2 linked regions of the Homo sapiens genome follow. The protein of the gene in region 1 interacts with the protein of each later gene in a biochemical or structural test. Each region holds a gene or a part of one and is shown on either strand. Other genes may lie near its edges. The genes, in order: RGS14 and GNA11.

Region 1 (12,963 bases):
TCCGACCAGACCAGCTGGAAGCATTTCCTCCCTCACCACCCACCTTTGACCAACCACCCTGGCCTGGTCCCATTTTTGACATTTGTCCACTTCTCTCCATTCCCCGCTACTAAGGACACTTCTTGTTTCCTCATTCAAAAAGGGCCCACCCTCAAAACTGCTGTGAAACCAGAGGATGTGAAGCATCTGGCACAATGCCTGGCACACAGTAGGTACATAAACAGTAACTCTCGTGATGACCACCTTCAGAGGCCCCACTGCCTGCTCCAGCCTGATGTGGGGGTTGGGGGCAGCATCTCCCAGGCAGTAGGCTTATGCTGTGCTGCAGGAGCAGGTGGAGTGTGGGTGAGGAAGTTATATTTAGCATGTATGAAAGCCCATCTGGGCTGCTGGCAGCCGCCCTAGCGGCCTGAGAAGAGTGGGCAAAATGCCTCCCACTACTGCCCTCGCACCCCTGCACTCCAGGCCCCTGAACATGCCCCGCAAGTACCCACCTGCAGGCCTTTGCCTAAGCTGTTCCCTCTGCCTGGAATATCCTCCCCCACAGCTCTGCCCATCCACATCTACTGCTGCTTCTTCCATGAAGCCTTCCGGACACCAGCCAGAAATGCCTACCCTCTCCCAAGAGACCTTCTCTGGAGTTTTCACTCTTCCTCCTCCCTGATCACTCCCTGCTTGGCTTACTTTCAGCCTGTGGGCCAGGAGGACAGCCCCAGATCTAGGTTCCTCTCCCCCACACACCTGGCAAGGCCTTAGGACTTGTCTACTAGGTAAATGAAATCCCGATGGCCCCCTGGAAGGTAGCATTCTTCCTTGAGATTCCCCTGACTGAATGGTTTCCTTTAAAGCCAGTTTTCCCCTAGGTCTTCTTTAAAGTTTAAGCTAGTTTGCACCTAAAGGAAAAAGTTCATTGGTTAGGTGCACTTGGGTGCCCCTAGAGGCTAAGGAGGTGAGGGCACCCCACGGATGGCCATTTCCAGGATGGGTCTGTGGGGATGGGAGTCTGGACTCTGGGAATGATGAGGGGCAAACCCCAGCTCCAACAGTGGTTCTCTCCAGTTTTACCTCCCTAAGGTCACCACAATAGGATGATGGATGAAGGTGGAAACCTGGAAGGACATGAGGTGGGGGGTGGGTGGATGTCTGAGTGAGTGAAAGTTGGTGCTGAGGGTGCTTTGGAGTTGGGTTTAGAACTTGAATTGGGGTTGGAGCCATGACTGAGCAGAGACAGAAATGGAGTTGGGGTCAGGATCAGGAAGGAGGTTAGAGTTGGAGCCAGGTCACGTTCCCACCTGTTCATTGCCCACCAGGTAGACCTTGATGTCAGGTAGAGAGAGGCCTCGTTTCTCACAGATCCCTGCCAGCATGTCTCGGATGGTGAGGCCAGGTCTGGCCAGGGCCAAGGAGGCTGTGCCATCGGGCAGGTACACACAGCAGTACTTCCCTGGCCGGCTTTCACTTTCACCCTCCGTGCTCCCAAGGCTCTTCCGGTGGCTCTGATTCATGGCAGGAGTGGGGGAGATTATGTGTACACATGCAAGGGCATGCACACAGGTACACAGAGATAGGTAAGCTTGCTGGGGCTCAAGCATGCACACGCACTCCCAAGGCAGGCAAAGATACGTCCTCCTGCAGGAACACATGTATGCACACCCAGGCATATGGGCACCTAGAGACGGGTCCACCCGCTGATTCCCACACACGTGCTGTGTATACACACCTGGGTGCTGCACATGTGCACACATTTGCCAACTGAGGATGTGTACCCATGACATATATGGGGACCAATGTAGTGAGACAAGTAAGGAGGCTGAAGGGTTGGCTACGCAGAGCAAGCTGGGAGACGCAGTAAGGACAGCAACTTGGAATGAGGGCCACCACGTAAATGGGCCTGAGTAGTGACTCTAGCCCATAGAGCATCTTGTCTTCCCCAACAGTCGGCTCACCTCAGATTTGCTGCTGACGAAGGCTAGGAAGCCAAGGTCCAGGCTGGCGGAGGAGTTGAGGGAGCCCTGAGACTCTCGGCGCAAGGCGGCGTTTGCAGTCCCGCCCAGCTCTAGTGAAGAGGGAGCGATGAACGCGAACAGCCCCCCGCCCTCACCCATCCTCTGCGGAAGCCTGTTCCCCACTGGTGGGCCTTGTTTGGAGCCATCCTGCAGGGGCCCAGGTGTAAATCCCTGGGAGCGACACCACCGTTGGAGATTTCCAAACGTCTGAGGTCTAGCCCAAGACCCGAACCACCCAGGGGAGTGTGGTGGTCACTGGGACCTGGGTTTCAATTTTCACAGACTTACAGACTGTGGGCCACGTAGGAGGAAGGGGGCACTCCCCAAATTTAACCAAACTCCCGCCTTCCCCACATCTCTGTTGCTCGCTCCTGCCCTCACCCCGGCGGAAGGACTTGCGGAGAGGGCGGCCCCCAGGACCCTCAACGGGTGGCAGCTGCCCCAACTCCTCCACACCCAGCGGCAGCGACTTCCCGGGCTTCAGCTTCGGCTTCTGTGGGTACAGGGGAGGCGCTGGCACCGGGCTGGGCCCCAGCCCGCATGCAGACCGTGGGCACAGACTCGCAGATCTGCACCCGGAGGCGTCCCCTCTTGCACGCGGTCCGCAGGACCCCCTGCCTCGCCCAGTCCCTCGCCCAGTCCCACGCACCTTCCTCGTGGCGTCAGGGCTGCCGAGGCGCGAGGAGCCAGGTTCCCGCAGAGGGCGTCCCTCGGCTTCGGCTAGCAGGCACTCGCGGTACAGCGGGGACTTGACGAAGCGCGCATAGCTGTCGAACTTCATCAAGTTGAAGATCTGCGGGGCGACCCCGGAACAGGTGAGCCGGGGCTGGGGTGGGGGCGCTGGGCTGCCTGCACCCAGGCCGGGTCCTTGGGGCTGGCCCCGCCCCAAACCTAGGGCTGGATTTCCCAAGCCCCGCCCCGACCTCAGTTCCTATACCCACCCCCGGGGTCCAAGCCCGCCCCGAGCTCAGCTAGGCTCCGCCTCTAACTGTCCTTCCCCGTGCCTCTGATACCGCCCTCTGAGCTCCGCCCTGCCTGCCCCGGCATTTGGCTCTGTCTCCGCCTCCAAATTTGCCCCCTCCGCTTTGTAGTTCAGACTCCCCGCCAGGGTCCGACCCCGCCCCTGCTCCTTTTGTCTCCCTTTCAAGGCCAATCCCCCCAGGATCGCCCACCTGAAGCTGCTGTGCCCGAAACATGTCCGGCCGGGGCTCGGCCAGCACCTCCTCGCCAAGCCAGGCCTGACGGTCGATGTTCACTGGGCTCAGCGCCTGGCTGGACAGGAACTCCTGGTAGATGTTGCGGGCCTCCTGAGCTAGCTGAAGGAGGAGGGACAGGAGGAGTTGGTCAGGGAGCGTGGCCCAGTTCCCCTCTCCCCAGCCCTCGGCCCCAGCTCCCCCTTCCCCCACCTGCTGGGTATCGCTGGCCGGGATCTGCTGGAAGCGCTCGCAGGCCTTCCAGAAAGTCACGTTTTCCGCGCTGAACTCCTTCTTCAGGAACTCCTGGGAGGGGAAGGAGGGGGAGGCAGGCAGAGACTCAGAGACACAGAGACCAAACTGGGGGATGTGATCAAAAAGATTGGGACAGAGACAGGGCCAAGAGACCAAGCCAGACAGACAGGGCCAGACAGACAGACGGAGCCAGACCGATCTGAAGACAGGGAGAGAAAATGAGAGGCAGAGACAAGGACAGGGAGAAGGAAGAAAAGTTCCCAGCTGGGAGAAGAGGAAGAGGGTGCTGCAGGAAGGCTAGATGAGGAAGCTGACAGAGGACCCCACTCTGGCCAGCCTGAAGCTCCATCCACGCCCTGCCCTCTCCCGTGTCCCCCCTTCCCTTTCCCTACCCCAGGCTTACAGTGAAGTAAGCCAGGCCCAGCGGGTCCTGCAACAGCCGCTCGAAGGACAGGGCCCAGCTGGCCACAGGCTGCTCCTCGGTTGGGAAGGGGCTGCTGGGACCACTGGGGAGGCTGTGGATGCTGAGAGAGCTGCCGCGGCCCTCGCCCTGGCCCTGGGGCCCCGTCGTGCTGCTCAGCTCTGCAGGGGGATGGACAAGTTGGGGTGAGCCTTGCTGCCTTCCCCAGCCCCTGGCACAACCCACCCTCCCCCATGCATCCACTCTGCAGCCATGTTCCCTGGAAAGATAGCAGGTGGCAGGGGTGTCCCCACCCATCTCCACCTCCCTCCTCCCTCCCACTCAGCCAGTTCTCCACACATTCTGTCACTTACCTCCATCTGACACAGCCAGAACCTATAAGAGACCCAACAGAGAAAGTCAGAAGAGCCCAGTGAGGATTCCCAGGGGACAGTTCTGGGCCCGACTCCCAGGAGCTGGAACTGCGTTCTCCTCCACCTGGGCATCCCCGGCCAGGTTCTACTTGGTCAGGGTTTTCCTCAGTCTGCCCCTGGCTCCCCTTCCATCCTGTGCCAACCACTAAGTACTGGGACTTATGGCAGGTACCTTCCAGCAGCCCCTGGTTCCCTCCTCCCCCAGCCCCTGCTGGGTGAGCCAGGTGTGCATAGCATGGTGGGTAGGAACAGACTTTAGTCTCTGCCACTTACTAGCTGTGTAACTTTGGGCAAGTTAGTTAACTTGTTTGCCTCCATCTGTAATCTGTAAATAGGAGATAATGCCTATTTACAAATGGAGGCAAACCATTTGCTTCCATCTTGATGTAAAGATCAAGTCAGTTTAATATATTCACAGCATTGGCTGGACACGGTGGCTCACGCCTGTAATCCCAGCACTTTGGGAGGCCGAGATGGGTGGATCACCTGAGGTCAGGAGTTCGAGACCAGCCTGGCCAACATGGTGAAACCCAGTCTCTACTAAAAATACAAAAAAAAAAAAAAATTAGCTGGATGTGGTTGTGGATGCCTGTAATCCCAGCTACTCGGGAGGCTGAGGCAGGAGAATCGCTTGAACCCAGGAGGCAGAGGTTGCAGTGAGCTGAGATTGTGGCATTGCCCTCCAGCCCGGGTGACAAGAGCAAAGCTCCGTCTCAATAAAAGAAAATCAAATAAAAATATATCCACAGCATCTAGAACATGGGCCAGCATGTGATATGGGCTGTATAAACATGTGCTGTCTTTGAGGAAGGAGAGGTGTCTCTGCAGCCAGTGATCTTACTATCGCACGTGTTGCCTATTGGGCCCAGGGTCCCATTACCACCGTGGGAGGGCACAAGATGCTGGTCTATAGTACAGAGCAGTGGTTCTCAAACTTCAGTGCAGAGTGGGAGGACCCCACCTCTGGAGATTCAGGTTCAGTAGGTCCAAGATGGGGCCTGAGGCTGTCCATTTCTACCAAGCTCCCAGGCGATGCTGATGCTGCTGGTTCAGGGACTACTCTGTGAGTAGTACTGCTGCAGTAACTAACTCCATCCTTGCCCCCAGTGCACAACTCTGGTTTCTCTGGGAATCCCAATCATTAGTGAAACAGAAAAACTCTCCTCTCAAAATGACTCTTGCGGTGGTTTCTCTTGTTTCTCTTTTTACCTTCCTAGCAGCTCCTCCAGCTTCCCCACTATCTCCCACTCATGCAATGTGGCCTCAACCCCTCTCTGGCTCTGTCCTGGGCACTTTGTCCCATCCACAGATCCACAGCTCCAGACACACATAACCAACTTCCTGGTAACGGCTCCAGCGCCTATCACCCCTGACTTGGGGTTAGAGGGCAGGACAGAGGCTCAGGGTGTGCGCGAGGAGGGCAGGGCCAGGCAGCCCAGCGGAGGGGGGCGAGTCCCCCCTCAAATGTCCCACAAGCCCTCAAGCTCCCAAATGGAAGTCCCAAATGGAAGCTCCCTCTGCCTCCACCAAAACACAGTACCAAACCAGCTTCCCTGCCCCCATCTTTCTTCCCATCACCCGGGCTTCCAACATCAGGGCTTGAGTCATCCCCAGTTCCTACTTCCCGCTTACCTCCTACACTTTCACCATGCCCTGTCACAGAAGTTCCTACCACCAGCCCCTTATTCCCATCCCAACTGGAAACAGGCCTGCAAACATCTCCACCCCGGAAAGCCCCCCAACCCCCACCCTCCTGAATGGAACCTTCCTCTCTGTTTCCTACTCCCACCCTGAGAGTATTCAGGTCACAGGGCGGCCATCTGTGGGCCAGATCCGGTCTGCAGATATGTGGGAAATTACTATTACCTTGGCCCTCTCAGGTTTTATTATGATGATTATTATTTTTATTTAAAGGTATTTTCCACATTTAAAAAGCAAGAGATTTTAAATTCCACTTGCTCCGTGAGACTGTAATGCTCCAGCTCCTTCCCAGCAGGACAACCTTGTCCGGGATTGAGCAGCCACCACCTTCCCCAAAAGGGCTTACACTCCTCTCAGAGGCCTCTGGGGCCAGTTTAATGCATTTATGTTACTTGTGGAGGCAGTGGGAGGCAGGCTCAAATTTGGGAGGTCAAATTTGTGCTGTGTGACTTTGGACGAGGTACTTAACCTCTCTGTGCCTCAGTTTTTTCCTCTCTAAAAATGGAGCAAATAATGGTCCTGACTTCGAAGGATTGGTGCGATTAAATGAGTGAAATATATATAAAGAACTCAGAACACTATCGGGCGTGTAGTAAATGTTCAAGGAACGTTACTATTAATGTCGTTCTTGTGTCAGTGTTGATGCCTGACCCCGCTACACATTCGAGTTTGCCACTCCCGCCATAGAAGGAAAGAGCACAGGTGTTGGGGGCGGGGGGCGTCTCTCAGATCCAGATTCAAACCCCAGCCCTGACTTTTTCCAGTTTTACAACTTCGGGCTCCTCCCTGAGCTTCGCTTCCCATCTGGAGCCCGGGAATAAGAAGTTGCAGTGGAGGGCAGCGAGTTAGTGCAGAGCGCGCTGGGCGGGGCGTCGGGCCCAGCGCGCCCCGCCCCCGTCTCCGGCCCCGCCCCTCCTGGCCCTGCTCTCGTGCTCCCCGCTCTGTCCTCCCCGCAGAGTCAAATCCCCCAACGAAAGTCGGTGCTTCCCACGGCGACAGGAGAAAGTCCCCACTCCGAGGGCGGCAGAGGGCTGCGAGGAGGGACGGGACGAAGCCTTTCCCTGCGCGGCCGCAAGGTTCCTCTGCAGCCTGCACCTACCTGCCCGCGCCCGGGCTCCTCCTCCCCCGGCTGCACCGCCACGGTGTTCCCAGCCTCGGAGACGCAGTCATCGCCCTCCCCCAGATCCCCGAGAATCACCCGGACTCGCCCCCCTCCGCTGGGCTGCTTGGCCCTGCCCTCCTCGCGCACACCCTGAGCCTCTGTCCTGCCCTCTAACCCCGAGTCAGGGGTGATAGGCGCTGGAGCTGGCGCCAGCCAGCACTTCAATTTTGTTTGGCCCTCACAGGTTTATTTTCCACGTTCTGCTTAACTGAATGTCGTTAAGTGGGGCTGCCTGCTAGATCCTCCCCAGGCCCCACCCCTCCCCACGGTGCCAACCCGGGCCCTTTCCCTGCCCCCGGAGGCACGTTGCGGTTGCCAGGTTACGGCTAAAACCCTACCTGGGCCTGACTAATGAACCCCCTTCAGCCTCACCCATTTTCCTCCCCCTCACCTCCACCCTACACTTCACCGAACTTTTCTATTTTCCCCACACCCCTGCTTCCGGCTTTGCCATTGCCAGTGCCTGGGTATCTGCTCCTGCTCTTCGCTTGGAATTGCTCCCCGATCTCTGCCCGTTGACATTAGTCGTCCCCAAACACCAGGCCCCTTGAATGCCCCTTCCCACCACGTGCTTATCCACCCATGTCCCGGCCTCTCTCCCTGCCAGTCTGGTCACCCCTGGAGTGCTGGCCTGGTTGGTGGGAGGGGTCAGATCTGAACTCCCTCCTCAAGAAGCACCGTCTTTGCCTCGTGCTCCCAAGCAGCCATCAGGACCCTGGCCTTGGCACCCCTTCACTAGGGACTCTCAGCCCCTGAATGCCACCTGTAGCTCTCCATCCTGAGCCTCTCTTGCCCTGACAGTTGTTGATAGCATAGCTGGAGCTGAAATTGAGTAGGGACAGAAATCTGGAGATGGGTGGGAGTGGGGGTGGAATCCAATTCCAGCTCTGCTATTCGGGAACAAGTAACTTCTCTGAGCTTCAGTTTTCCCTGGGTAGCATGGGGCTCAGCACTCCCAATTTCCTGAGGCTGCTGTGAAGCTTGAATGAGGCCCCATGAGTGAAAGCACCAGGCATGCCACAATCAGAGCAGCACCCCACAGCGGAGTGAGGTGCAGGTGTGCAGGGGCCCTGCAGGGGCTCTGGCCTGCCCTGGCTGCCACTGCAGGGCCTGGGGAAGTTGTGTTGAGCAGGGCTGGCCTCCCCTGCTTCAGCCTGCTTGAGAAGAAGTGGTGAGTGAATGGAGAAAAAGGGGAAGAAAGGGCAAGGAAGGGTGTGGTGGCCAGTGACACACGGACCCAGGCTTGGACCTCGGCCGGTCATATTTTTTTCTTAGGAATTTGGTCCTGGGGGAGCTGCTGGCACCTGAAAATGCTAAGGTGAGAGTAAGGCCCCAATTTCCTGAGCTTTGACTGTGTGGCAGGCACCCTCTGGCAGCACACATTCATGTCCTCCCTCCATCTTTACGGGTATCTTGTGTGGCAGGTATTATTACCCCCATTTTACAGATGAGGAAACTGAGGCCCAAAGAAGCCATGCAGCTGAGATGTGGCAGAACTGAGATTAGAACTCAAGTTTGCCTGATTCTGGAGCCTGAGGCCTCCCCACCCTCTACCCAAGCTGACTCCCTTTGTGGACCAAGGAAGCTTGGAGGCCCAGGGCCTCAGCCCTTGGGGCACAGGTGGGCAAGTCTAATCTGGCATGACCTGCTCAGGGGCTCCTCTTGAACTGTGCCCTCTAGAGGGATCAGACCTTGAAGGAGGGCCAATTTTCTGAGCATCTTCTATGCTGGGCACCCTCTACCATCCTCTTGAGGATTTCATCCTAGCTTGAGGGGCTGCAAGACCCTGTCTGGAGATGTCCACACAGAATCTGGGTGTCTGGTCCCTTCAACTTGAACCAGCCTGTGGAGATGACCCCTGGCCTTGCCCCTGTATAAGGCCACCCTGAACTCGAGTGCCCTGAGCTGGACGCGAGGGACAAAGAGAGAGCTGCATGGGCTTTGCCTTGCAGGTCTTCCTGCCAGGAGGGGAAGACTAACTAGGCCCTCTGACAGGACAGGACAGGCTAACTGCCCCTCCAGGCTTAACTCTCAGCCTCCCCTAGGGCCCTGTCCCTGTGTTTGCCCACAGCCAGGCCTATGCCGTGCCCTCCCTCCTCCAGCTTGCAGACCCTTTAGGGACCGTCTCCTACAACACGGTGCATGGAGCTAGTGGAGAGTCTTGCTCTGTCGCCAGGCTGGAGTGCAGTAGCACGAACTCGGCTCACTGCAACCTCTGCCTCCCAGGTTCAAGCAATTCTCCTGCCTTAGCCTCCCAAGTAGCTGGGACTACAGGCACATACCACCACGCCCAGCTAATTTTTTGTATCTTTAGTAGAGAAGGGGTTTCACCATATTGGCCAGGATGGTCTCGATCTCTTGGCCTCATGATCTGCCCGCCTCGGCCTCCTAAAGTGCTGGGATTAGAGGCGTGAGCAACTGTGCCTGCCTCCTCTCTCCCTCCTTCCCTCCCTCCCTCCCTTCCTTCCATCTTTTTTTTTTTTTTTTTTTTTTTTAATATAGGATCTTGCTCTTTCACCCAGACTGCAGTGCAGTCTGAGTGTGATCACAGCTCACTGCAGCCTTTACCTCCTGGGGTCAAACGATCCTCCCACCTCAGTTTCCCAGTAGCTGGGACTACAGGTGCATACCACCATGCCCAGCTAATTAAAAAGAAGATGGGTCCTCACTATGTTGCCCAGGCTGGTCTCAAACTCCTGGGCTCAAGCGATCCTCCTGCATTGGCCTTCCAAAGTGCTGGGATTCCAGGCTTGAGCCACTGCCTGGTATTTTCACCTGTGTCTTTTGTGCCTTGCCAGACTAGGGGGCAGGGACTAGGGCTGATGGGCCTGGGTCGGGAGTGTCTAGGATAGGGGCAGTGGCAGCACCAAGCAGGCACTAAGGAGGGGTTGTTGAATGAATGAGTGAATAAGTACATGAACAAATGAAAAGGTAAAGAGGCTGTGTGAAGACATCCCTAGGAAGGGGGCTGGGAGATGTCTCCAAGTGACAGGTTTCCTTGCAACTGCCTGACAAGCTGAATGGCAGAGAGGCAAGGCTGACAACTGAAGCTTCCACAGCAGGGAATGATGGTGGTGAGAGGAGAGGTAGGGGAGGACTGGGGCCAGGCAGTTCTGGGGGTTCAGATGCTGACGCTCTACTCTCTGGCTGACCTCGGCACAGCATTTACTTCTCTGAGCCTCCCTTGGGAGGTAACTCATGGAGGGACCAGACATACCTGTCCCCCAGGCGCCCCTCCATCCACATCCGCACCTCAGATCCCAGTGCCTGTCTGGCCCTCCCTGCCCTAGCTGTGCAGGGCCACGGGAAGCTACTCAGTGACCAGCAGGCAGCCAATCTGTGACCCTCGGGATTCTAAGAGGTGGCACAGAGAGTTTGGAACAGGCCCAGGAAGGGCAAAGATAAACCTGTGTGTGACAGTTCTGAGAGGAGCCGGGGCGTCTGTGGGCTTGATGGAACTGGGGGCAGACCTTGGGGCACCCTCCCTGCTCTAGGTGACTTTTGAGTAGAGAAGTCACAGGCTGACACAGAAGGGGCAGGGGCTGGGTCTGTCTCTGGGCCCCCTCTGCTGCCCTGTAGTTCTAGGCACTGTCCCAGAAGCATCAATCCAGTTGCCCTCCCAGGGTGGGCCTGGGGTTAGCCTCCTTGGCTTCCTGGCCCGGTCGCCTAGGCAAGGACGAGCGAAGTGTCATGCCTGTGACATGGGAATGCAAGGGAGGTGGGTTTTCTTTTTGCACTTTCGTTGTGGGGTCGGTACTGCAGACAGTGAGATGGGGGGCTGAGCTGGCTTTGAAGGGTGGCCTCTCTCCCAGCCGGCCAGCCCGGGGCTGGGCAGGAAAGAGATGCTGGAAGAAGAAGAGGTAGAGGCAGGTTTTGGGAACTAAGGGGCAGGAGTGGTGATGGGGCTGCCTCAGCTTCTTGGTGAGGCAGGAGATCTTTGAATTGGGGCTGAAAATGTAGGGGGCACTGGGCTGACAATTATGCAGCCCCCACAATGGGTCAAAGGCCTCATATGCATTATTTCACTCTATCATCTCAACAAGCCTTGAAATTCATTCCAACCTCCTCATTTTAGGGATGAGGAAACTGAGAGCTGGCGAGGACCCTCCCTCCAGTAAGAGAGAATAGAACCAGGACTGGAACCCAGGTCTCTATAGAGCCACTGGCTTTGGCCCGTGATACTAGGCTGGGGCCTGGTGGTGGGCCAGGACACTGGCCTTCCTGAGGTTGTTAAGAGGGACTCTTCCAAGTGAGGGGGGAACCCTAGGGAGAGAAGGGAGGCCCAGCACAGCTTGCCCCATCTGCTGAATGAATGAGAAGAGCCAGATCCTCTGAGGGCAGCTCTGATCTGGGGCTAAGCAGCCAGGGAGAGGGTTAAGGGGTGGGGCAGCTGCAGCCAGGGGGATCTTAGTGCTCAGCCCTTCCTGGAAGCTCAGGAATAGAACAGGCAGAAGCTGCATCAACCTAGTCTGACCCTGCTGCCCCATCCCGGGCTGCCCAAACAATGCTAGTTCTGGCAGGAAGCCTCTGGAGTAGCTCCGGCTGGAGGACACCGACCCAGCAAGAGCTGCCACTAACATGACCTTGGGCACCTGGAGCAGGGGGTGAGGAGGGGAGGACTCAGGCTGAGCGGGATGTAGGGGCTTGAGCCACTGTGGGGATGGGCAGGGGGCAAGGAGCACATCGAGTGTCCCTGAGACCCTGGGATGCAGCCCCAGATGCAGCAGGTGAGGGAGTGGTGGGGGCTGGACCAGAAGCCTGTGCCCGCTCTGGCCTCACTGCCAGGGTTGTACCAGGCTCCCGGCTGGGCCATCTGGAAGGGTCTAGGGGTGAGAGCACCAGGTCCTACCACCTGCTGCTGTCTGTACCCAACTTCTCTCGCCTGCTGGCAGCCCGTGGGCTCTTGCCTGGCCCTGCCGGGTGTGCCTCCTGGGCTCCACCCTGGGTGTGCCCACCCCCTCCTCGTGGCCCTGGCCCGGAGCCCACACTCACCATGCGCCCGTTGGGGACGCCCAGGTGCTTGGGCTTCCCTGGCATGCCGCTGCCGATCAGGGGTCCCCGCCGCGGGGGCTGCCCACCATGGGGACTGTGGGCAGCGCCGGCCAGAGCTTGCACGGTGGCGGGCAGGCAGTGGAGAGAGCCTGACTCGGCTCCTGCGGGCCCTCACATCCTGAAACACCGCTCACTACCTCTTTTCTCTGCCACAGGAAGTGTCTCTATAGAAACCAAACCACAGAAAGAAGCAAGGTCTAAGAGAGCGAACGCCTCTTCCTACACACACACGCGCACACACACACACGTTCACGCACACACACGCCACCAACACACTCCTGGCAGCATCCCGCACGGGCACCAACACAAGGCAGAGGCTTCCGTGTGCCCAGCAAGGAGCCCAGCCTGGTCTGGCCAGGACCAGGGAGCTCTAAGTTCATGCCTGGGCTCACAGCACACGAGTAAACATACCTAGGCACCTTTGTCCACCCTGGGGGCGTTCCTGTGGACATGCACACACGTGCACTGGGACCTGTGTATCCACACGTGTACTTTACTCGGCACACACTTACCTCATACCTACTGTGTGCCAGACAAACATGTGCTCAGTACCCCTCTCCCCGGCAGCTGCACATATGCAGGGTACCTCTAGCCCCAGACACCTACAGGCTCCTTCCATGCATGTGGCCAGGTGTGCAGACAGATGGATAACTTGCCCGCATGGCTGTGCACACACAGACATTCAGGTATGCGTGTCATAAACACATGGGCTCTCCCTTACAAGGGGGACTTGGGTGTATAGTCATGTGCATGCACAGTC
Region 2 (9,815 bases), on another chromosome or scaffold:
CTGGGACTTTCTCTTGTGCTGGGTCATTTCTGTCCCCTGAGACCCCAGAGAGGATAGAGGTTGGGAGGCTCGTATCCCGACCCCAGGGTCTCCATTGGCCCGAGCCCTCCGGGCTGCTTCAGACACTGCCGTAGGTGGCGCAGTGCGCGGTCCACCCCCTCCTGGTGGCTTTCCGTCCTCCCGCTGGTTTGGGTGCTGTGTCCCTGTCCTGCCCCCCCACCCCCGGCAGCCGGCCTGAGCACCCACCGCTGTGTTGCAGCTACCTGACCGACGTTGACCGCATCGCCACCTTGGGCTACCTGCCCACCCAGCAGGACGTGCTGCGGGTCCGCGTGCCCACCACCGGCATCATCGAGTACCCTTTCGACCTGGAGAACATCATCTTCCGGTACCGCCCGGGCCACAGCAGGCGGGGAGGGGGCACTGAGAGGCTCATTTGCCCGGTGTGCCGGCTCATGCCTGCGCACCCAGTGCTTTGGGAGGCCAAGGCGGGAGGATCGCCTGAGTCCAGGAGTTTGAGACCACCCTGGGCAACATAGCCAGACCTCATATCTAAAAAAAATTTTAAAAATTAGCTGGGCGTGGTTGTGTGCACCTGTGGTCCCAGCTACTCAGGAGGCTGAGGCAGGAGGATCGCTCAAGCCCAGGAGGTTGAGGCTGAAGTGAGCCATGATGGCACCACTGGACTCCAGCCTGGGCGACAGAGGGAGACCCTGTTTCGTCTTATTAAACAAAAGAAAGCCCATTGGTCTTCATCCTCAGTGTGTGTTTGACCAGGTCAGGGGATAAGATTTATCTCTAAGTATGTGTGAGCCAGGGCCACACAGGGAAGGAGCTGTGGGGGTGTGGGGGGCGTGGCCACATCCATCCAGACCGGCAGCCGAAGAGACCTGGCAGGGAGGACATTTGACAGGGCCTCCAGGACGGGCCGGGGGCCTGGTTGGAGCCAGCATGGGGCTGGGGTCTGGAGTGCTGGCCGGAGCAGGGGGTGCCGCATGGTGCGGGAGGGGTCATAGGGACTGAGGCTGCCAGGGGAGGGGGCTCATGGGGACCGAGGCTGTGAGGGGAGGAGGGGTCATAGGGACCGAGGCTGTGAGGGGAGGGGGGGGGTCACGGGGACCGAGGCTGTGAGTGGAGGAGGGGTCATAGGGACTGAGTGGGGAGGAGGGGTCATAGGGACTGAGGCTGTGAGGGGAGGAGGGGTCATAGGGGCCGAGGCTGTCAGGGAAGAGGGGTCATGGGGACCGAGGCTGTGAGGGGAGGAGGGGTCGTGGGGACCGAGGCTTTGAGGGGAGGAGGGGTCATAGGGACTGAGTGGGGAGGAGGGCTCCAGGCTGGGGTGGAGGAGCTGGGTGGTGTGGGGTGGATTCTGTTCTTCACGGGCTGCCCCTGCGGATCCTGCTGGGCCTCCGGGGCTCCAGGTCCACTGTGGCTGGGGGCCGGCCAGCAGAGCCGGGTTCTCCCTGGGGACCCTCAGTGGGTCCTGTGTCTGGTAGGCTGCTCAGCTGGCTGGACTCTGCTGTCCCTGGGAACGTGGACCCTGCCTGCCTGTCTCCTGGCCCCATATAACATCTCCAGCGCTGAGGTCCCGGCTTTATGCGTGCCTGTCCTGGGCTGCTGGTGTCGGGCGTGAGACTCCCACCGCAGGCCTTATTCCCGCCCAGTGCTGGAGGCCAGAAGGCTGAGATGCAGGTGTGGGCCGGGCCAGGTCCTTCTGAGGCTGAGGGGATCTGCCCAGGCCTCACTCGGCTCCTAGTGGCGGCCGCATCCTTGGCATCCTTGGCATCCTTGGCATCCTTGGCTTGTGGCCGGGTTGCCTCATCCCTGCCCCCATCCTCATGCAGCGTCCTCCCCGCCTGCGCCTTTGCCTCTGTTCTCTTATAACCTGTCCTTGGCCAGGGCCACCCTACCTCTGTGTGACGTTATCCTAACCAGTGACATCCGCACAGACCCTGTTTCCAGATCAGAGCCGTCCCCGGGTTCTGGTGTTCGTGCGTGTGGGGCGCTAGACGGCTCTGTCCTGGAGGGCCTCGCGGTGGCTCCGGTTGCGGGTGCCTTCTCCTGCAGTGCAAGCTCGCCCTGGCACTGGCCCTCATGAGGGAATGACGCCTCCCTGCCAGGGTGTCCCCACCCAGCTGGTGCACTGCCGAGGCCATTGTGAGGGTTCCGGGAAGTCTGTGGGGTTTTCCTCGAGAGCCCTGCCTTGAGACCCACCCCAGGGCTGGGGGTGCCACCCCCTGCCATCTGCCTGTTCTCCCCACCCGTCCTCCCAGCTCGGCCTCCCAGCGCAGGCAGGGAGGATGCGGCGTGAAGATGGAGGCAGGGATGGAGCAATGTGGCCACAAGCCAAGGAATGCCAAGCTCTGGGATGGTTCCCGGGGACCCGAGCAGGCGCTGGGCCCTCAGAAGCTGCGGTGTCCTCTCTGGACATGGGCGATGGTGTATATTGTTACGAGAATTCAAGTTTTTCTTCTTTTTTATTCACACGGGGCCCATGACCCCAGGATACAGCTGAGGCGAGCCAGGCATAGGCCAGGTTGTGGCATGAATGTCCCCTCACAGCCCCACGCTGGCCTCTTAACAGCGCAGGCCTCTGTGTCCTCTGTCAGAAATGTCCTGTCCCCTCCCTGAGCTGAGCTCAGGCTGGGTGTGTCACCCCCTCTCCACCATCTTCCAGGCCCTTCCCAGCTCCAGCTGTGCCCTTTTCTTTTTTTTGAGACGGAGTCTTGCTCTGTCGCCCAGGCTGGAGTGCAGCTGTGCAATCTGGGCTCACTGCAAGCTCCGCCTCCCGGGTTCACGCCATTCTCCTGCCTCAGCCTCCCGAGTAGCTGGGACTATAGACGCCCGCCACCACGCCTGGCTAATTTTTTGTACTTTTTAGTAGAGATGTGGTTTCACCATGTTAGCCAGGATGGTCTCGACCTCCTGACCTCGTGATCCGCCTGCCTCGGCCTCCCAAAGTGCTGGGATTACAGGCGTGAGCCACCGCGCCCGGCCCGGCTGTGCCCTCTGTGCCGGGTGCAGACCCCCGTCCTGAGCCTACTCCTCTGCCACCATTGTTTCTCTGCCAGCCGCCTCTGTCCACCACACGCTGGCAGAGGGCCGGCCAGGTGCTGTGGGATGCAGCTGGAGGCCTTGAAGGCCGGTGGGATCGTCCCAGTGCGTGAGGAGAGGCTCCTGCTCCCTCAGGTGGGGACAAGACACGGGGGGACCCGGATCCCAGCCCTGCCGGCCGCCGCAGGCGTGCAGGAGAGGCCTCGCGCTCCAGACGGGCTGTGGCCTGGTGTCGGCACACCCACTGTCCTCCCGCCTGGCCACAGCTGCTGGTGCGGGCCCTCTTGTCCCTTAGAGTCACCTGGCACATCTGTCATCCACCGGTGCCTGCTGGACTCCCCCGCAGACCAGACCAGGTGGATTTCACCACTCACATGCCCAAAGCAGCCCCGCTCTCCTCGGCAGAGTTGCAGGGACCCCGGCCTTCCCTGGGGCCTGGGGCCAGGGCCTGAGGGGCACTCTCCGCTTCTGCCTTTGTATTCTTTCAAGGAGACCAAAGTGCCTTTTCTCGTTATAGAAAACTTAGAAAAGTCACAAGTAGAAAGAGGCAAACGTCCCGTAAGGAACGCACGCCCGCAGACATCGTCTGAGCTGATTTTCTTTCTCCCGCCTGTGCGTGGCCTGAGAGTGTGAGGTTGAGCTGCTCACCACGCGGGGCAGGGCGCTGCGCCTGCTCTTCTGCCCCAGGAGGATACCGGCAACTCTGCCCTCTGCAGCCGTCACTGGAGGGTCCCTGCAGGGAGCAACTGTGGCATCAGTGTTTACTCCTGCGAGTGACGCTTGGTGAACATCTGTGTCCCTGGCCCAGTGAGGGGAAAGGCTTCTGTGCTCAGGGTGACATCCAGATGCCAGATGTAGGGTCCCTGGGCACCCATCGCAGGTTCCCGCAGCAGCTGGCGCCCAGAATCCTCTGGGTTCTCACACCCCCACACTAGCGCCCGCTTCCCTGGGCCCAGTGGTCTCAGGCCCCTTTGCCAGTGAGGGAAGGGTCTGCGGTGGTCACCCCTGGAGGCGGTGCGGCCGCTCTCTGAGAGCGTCCTTGCCCGTTCTAAGAGTGGGGGCTCTTCCTGCTCCAGCCGATGTCAGTCTGGTGTGGCAGGAGGGGCTTGGGTGGGAGCCGTCCTGGGATTGCAGATTGGGCCTTGGGGCGCCAGGTGGCTGAGTCCTGGCGCTGTGTCCTTTCAGGATGGTGGATGTGGGGGGCCAGCGGTCGGAGCGGAGGAAGTGGATCCACTGCTTTGAGAACGTGACATCCATCATGTTTCTCGTCGCCCTCAGCGAATACGACCAAGTCCTGGTGGAGTCGGACAACGAGGTGGGCCCTGCCCTGAGCAGGGGCAGCGTTGGGGGCCGGGCCTTCCCCACCTGCCAAGCCTGGGTCCCCTCACCTGGGTCCCCCCAGCTGCCCCTTGGGCTGTGTGCAGTGGGGAGGGCCCCTCTGATTCCCTCTGCCTTCGCTCCCGCCAGAACCGGATGGAGGAGAGCAAAGCCCTGTTCCGGACCATCATCACCTACCCCTGGTTCCAGAACTCCTCCGTCATCCTCTTCCTCAACAAGAAGGACCTGCTGGAGGACAAGATCCTGTACTCGCACCTGGTGGACTACTTCCCCGAGTTCGATGGTGCGCCGGGCTGCGGCATGGGGAGGGGCTCGCGGGCAGGGCCTTACTGGGGGGAGGGGGCTGATATGGGAGAGGGGCTCATACAGGCCGGGAGCTCTAAGGGAGGGCGTCTGATGGGAGGTGTCATGTATGGGAGTGGAGTCTCAGGGAAGGGAGATCTCGTATGAGGGGGGCCTGTACGGGAATGAGTTCTCCGACGCGGGTGTCTCATACCCGTGGGAGATCTGTTAATGCAGGGACTCCTTATACAGGAGGGGTCTCGGGTGGGAGGGGTCTCGGGCAGGGGGATCTCGGGTGGGAGGAGTCTTGTACAAGGAGGGCACCATGGGAGGGGGAGTCTTGTATTGGTGGGTCTTGTACGGGAGGGAGTTGTCGTATGGGGGTGTCCTGTATAGGTGATCCCATATGGGAGGGGTCTCACAGGAAGGGTTCACGCACACTGCCAGCGCAGCCCCGTGGGGACCTTGGTGGTAGTCCCTGCATCCTCCTCTGTGCCCTACTGCCCCCACCCTCGGACCCGTCCCTCCCTACGTGGCCCCTGCCCCACGGGGTGTGTCAGGGCAGCTGAGCACTGAGGGTCTTCACATGCCCAGCCCTCTCTGGGCCTGGGGATGGCGGCCAGGGGAGGGTGTTGTGTGCCCTCGTCTGTGTGGTCAGTGGCTGCCGTTAGTGCTGTCACCACTCAGAGCTGTCCCTGCCAGGCACAGTGAGGCCCTGGGCAGCTCTGGCGCCCTCATTTCCACCCCGGATCTGTGCTCCTCCCGTGAGTCTCGGGTGTCATCTTCGGGAGGGCCCCTCAGGGTGCCCTGCCTCTGGATGTGCAGCGAGAGGGAGGGGTCTGGCACACGGTATAGCCTCGGCCGCTGGCTGCAGGCGCAGGGCCCTGCTGTCCCTGGGCAGGGGAGTGGCGGGGGGCGCTGCACCTGCTCCAGCCGCACGTGGCCCCTGCCCAGCAGCCTGTCCTGTGGGCTCAGAGAGCCCTGGTGGGGGGAGGCCAAGGGACTGGGGCATAGACCCCTGTCCCACCAGTCCCCAGAGCAGCCCCTTGAACACCCCCAGGGGCCTTTCCACCGGGGCAGGCAGGAGTTACTGGGCGGGTCGCCTGCATTGTCCAGGGTGGTGGAGGGGCAGGGGTGGCCGGTGGGAAGCAGCGCCCCTGCTGGAGCCCCTGGATGTCTCTGAGGCCTGGCTGCAGCAGGGGCACCGTGGGTGGGTGGGGGCCACTGTTCCTGCTCTGTAGGCTCTGTGCCCAGCCCTGGGGGCCTCTCCTCTCACCCTGGGCCTTCGCAGGGCAGCCATGCCAGAGGCCTGCCCTGGAAGGCTGTGGCTGTGGAGCTGAGTGGATAGAGGCCGGCAGAGGGCTGAGCAGAGGGAGCAGCGGTGGGTGCAGAGCCCCAGGTTGGAGGCCTGGGCCGTGACAGTAGTGCCCTGGGGCTACAGTGGGATTGGCACCGCAGCTCACCTGGGGAGGGAGGGGAGCTGCGGCCCGTCAGGCATGCAGTGGGCTGGGGGTCGAGCTGGGTGGGCCGTGGGCCTTACTCGCTCATCCCCTGGGAGTGACAAAGGGGCCCACGAGTCCCTTGCCCTGGGCCGGGCTGGGGCACAGCCTCACCCTCTGCCCTCCCCCAGGTCCCCAGCGGGACGCCCAGGCGGCGCGGGAGTTCATCCTGAAGATGTTCGTGGACCTGAACCCCGACAGCGACAAGATCATCTACTCACACTTCACGTGTGCCACCGACACGGAGAACATCCGCTTCGTGTTCGCGGCCGTGAAGGACACCATCCTGCAGCTCAACCTCAAGGAGTACAACCTGGTCTGAGCGCCCAGGCCCAGGGAGACGGGATGGAGACACGGGGCAGGACCTTCCTTCCACGGAGCCTGCGGCTGCCGGGCGGGTGGCGCTGCCGAGTCCGGGCCGGGGCCTCTGCCCGCGGGAGGAGATTTTTTTTTTTCATATTTTTAACAAATGGTTTTTATTTCACAGTTATCAGGGGATGTACATCTCTCCCTCCGTACACTTCGCGCACCTTCTCACCTTTTGTCAACGGCAAAGGCAGCCTTTTTCTGGCCTTGACTTATGGCTCGCTTTTTTCTAAAAAAAAAAAAAAAAGAAAGAAAGAAAAAAAGCAACGAAACATAAAACACACAAGCGCCCCGTGCCCCCAGTGACTCTGGGCCTCACAGAGCCCCCGCCAGCCAGCATGGGGCCCCGCCCTGCAGCCAGTCACGCGCCCCCACACCGCAGCCCCCCGTGGCTGTCCTTCCAACCCCACGTGCTTTTTCTTTCTCCTGCCCGCTTCTTTTCTTCATCACAAAAGGCGTGGAGACTCGGAGACGGACGTTTTTCCCCTTTTTTAAGTTATTGACGCCCAGCGCGCCTCGCCTCTTCACCCATCAACGCTGTGCTTTGCCCACTGGACTCCTGAAGAGGGGGTGGGGGGCTCCCTCGGTCGCCCACCCTGGGAAGTGCCTAACCTTTTATTTTATTTTATTTTTTTGAGGAAAAAGAACGCCTGACTCACAGGTTGAAGAAACACCCTGGGCCCTCTCTCATGGCCGGGTTCCCCGTCCCTCTGCAGAGGCTGGGAAGGGTCCCCGGGCTGGAGCCACGGGGGCTTCTCTGGGCTGTGCCTCCGGGGCCAACACTGGCTGCTTGGGGCTGCCCGGGGACTCCAGAGGGCTGCACGGCCACCCTGCCCTGGCTAGAGCGCACCCCACCGGAGCCCACGTGGGCTGGGCGGCTGGAGGGATGGTCCCCCGGTGACACTGGGAGAAAGGCCACTTGGATGGGGGCGTTTCTGTTTTGTTCCGCTTTGTGATGTCACCAATTTGGAAACAGCGAGGGTGGGTGGGGACTTTTACAGAATATTCTCAGGTGTGTACCCGAGAGGCAGAGAGAGGGACGTGGCCGGCAGCTCTGTGCGTGGCCTTGTCCCAAGCACTTGCGCCCGCCCCCGAGCGCCGCCCCCGGGGAGCGGGAAGCCAGCACTCGCACTTTGGCCAGGGGCGCGTGGAAGGTGGTGGCAGGCACCGGCCTGGGCAGCTTCCAGGCCTGGCTGGCCACGACCACGGCCCGAGGGGGAGCCCGCCAGGCCACGCCGCACTGAGCCACAGCCCCGGGGGCCGCCTCCCGGGGCCCCTTGAGGCACTGAGGCACCGAGACTGGTTCTCCCCGAGAGACTCGGAAGGTGGGGAACGAGGGGACTGTGTTTGGGGAGGTGGCTTTTTCGTCTGCTGTTGACTGAACACTACAGCGCCCTGTGGTTCCGGGCTTCGCACAGCTGTCCCAGGGATGGATCGCCTGTGCTGCCTTCGCCCGCCGCCACACCGGGACCCTGCACGGCTGCTTCTGGCCTCGACAGATGACAAAAGAAACAGCCCCAAAATACGACCACTCCAACCAGCAGTTCCCGCCTGCCTGCCCGCCACTGTCAGGCCTGCCCTGGCCTCCTCGTCCGCAGGGCTGTCTGCTGGCTTCTGGGGGCAGAAGAGCGGGGAGCCCCGTGGAAGGGTCAGGGGAGACCAGGTCAGGGCAGCTACATTTCTGGTGATCAGCCCCATGGGGAGACGGGGCTGGCGGGATACCCCCCCCCCGGCTTCCCCACACCACTTCTGTCTCACCCGGAAGCGTCCTTTTTTTGTGCCAGGTGTCTACCTAAGAGGGTTGGTGCCAGAAGCCCCCCATGGCGAGTGCTGGGGCCCGGCGGTGCCCTGGGGGAGCAGATGGGGCCACCCCTGGCAGGGCCGCTACAACCTTTTCCAGCAGCGGAGCCCTCTGGGGGGCCTGTGCTTGTGGCATCTCTGAGGGCCTAGATTGCACAAGGTGACCTGGCCGTGGCCTGAGGGTGGAGTCGCCCAGCACGCAGGCCGGGGCGCTGCGGGGCTAAGTATTAGGCCTTCCCAGGGAGGGGGCGTGCCAAGCATCCCAGAGCCGGGCTGGGACCGCCAAAACGTCGTGGCCTGGATCCTCTGGGTCTGAGTGCCTGATCCCCTGCCCCCCAAAAAAGCAGAGGTAGGTGTTGCAGGCCCAGGGCAGGGGTGCCTGCCCCAGGAGAGTCCCAGGCAGTGGTTCTCGTGCCAGTGGCACCCAGGGGCAAGGACAGCCAACCCCCACCCTTGCCACGTGTGGGGCCACGTGGGCATGTGGGGTGTGTGTTTTTACCTTGGTGAATCTCACCTGCCAACGATTTCTCGTGAGTGCCGACCACCTTCTCCGACCATGTTACGCCCGGGCGGCAGCAGCCCCCGGCCACTGCAAACCCATGCCCTGGGTCCCCCGGCTCCCCCAGGGAGGCATCCCCGTGCCAATGTCCCCCAGTGGTGGCAGCAGATCCTGTGGCCGGCCTGGCGGACGGGACCCAGTGATACTTGTATATTACACAGTCCTGATTTCAGACAATTTCAACCTTAATCTATTTAAAAAAGAATATTCTATACAAGCTGTTTTTAAGCCTTTTACCATTTGAAATGCATGTGTTGTGCGCGTTGGGGATGGGAGGAGGGGCTGAGGAGCGGCTCAGTGTCACCTCCCACAGCCACCGGCCCTGACCCTTAATCCAGACACCGATGGAAGTCGACTTTTCATATCTTTCTCCTGAAATGAACTCTGTTTTAAATTGGAATAAATTTTGTTCCTAAATGCTGGCGGCCCCCTTCTGGTTTATTTCCTGTTGTCCTTCAAAGGGGGCTGGGGGGAAGTGTGCAGAGGCCTGGCCCCCAGGAGCCCTGGAGTTACCTAGGGCATTGCCTGACCTCAGTGGGGCCGCCTGGGTGCCTCCGCACGGTGTCCCGGGGCCCCTCCCCTGTCATCTTGTTTGACCCTTCACTTCAAGTTCATTTCACTAGCACCAGGCCAGAGCAACCTGCTTGGGAAATGCCACCTTGTTTGGGGGCTGGGGACAAGGGAGTGAGACGGGGAGGAGCCCAGGTCCCAGGCCAGCCTGCCCCTCACCTTCCAGGGCACCTGTGGGGACATCATGCCCTCCGGGCCTCCGTTTCTGTAAGCTGCGGATGTGGGACCTCTGCAGCCTTCCTTCAGTTATTTTTTCCTTTTGAAAAAAAATTGTAAAATACAGATAAATTTCTAAGTGCACAGCTCAGCGGCATTAAGTGTATCCACACGGTTGTGCAGCCATCACC

The links.
Region 2: the proteins of RGS14 (region 1) and GNA11 form a complex in vitro, tested with the Homo sapiens proteins (one study listed by BioGRID).

What each region holds. Positions count from the first base shown.
Region 1 is NC_000005.10:177,357,250-177,370,212, reverse strand, and holds the start of RGS14 (regulator of G-protein signaling 14), read right to left. Parts: upstream 12,290-12,963; 5' UTR 12,189-12,289; coding exon 12,144-12,188; intron 7,161-12,143; exon of another isoform or gene 7,089-7,160; intron 4,251-7,088; coding exon 4,229-4,250; intron 4,037-4,228; coding exon 3,858-4,036; intron 3,506-3,857; coding exon 3,413-3,505; intron 3,323-3,412; coding exon 3,179-3,322; intron 2,800-3,178; coding exon 2,656-2,799; coding exon of another isoform or gene 2,500-2,655; coding exon 2,388-2,499; intron 2,057-2,387; coding exon 1,947-2,056; intron 1,497-1,946; coding exon 1,293-1,496; intron 1-1,292.
Region 2 is NC_000019.10:3,114,685-3,124,499, forward strand, and holds the end of GNA11 (guanine nucleotide-binding protein subunit alpha-11), read left to right. Parts: intron 1-259; coding exon 260-388; intron 389-4,239; coding exon 4,240-4,369; intron 4,370-4,521; coding exon 4,522-4,675; intron 4,676-6,304; coding exon 6,305-6,495; 3' UTR 6,496-9,315; downstream 9,316-9,815. UniProt on the Homo sapiens protein: Guanine nucleotide-binding proteins (G proteins) function as transducers downstream of G protein-coupled receptors (GPCRs) in numerous signaling cascades.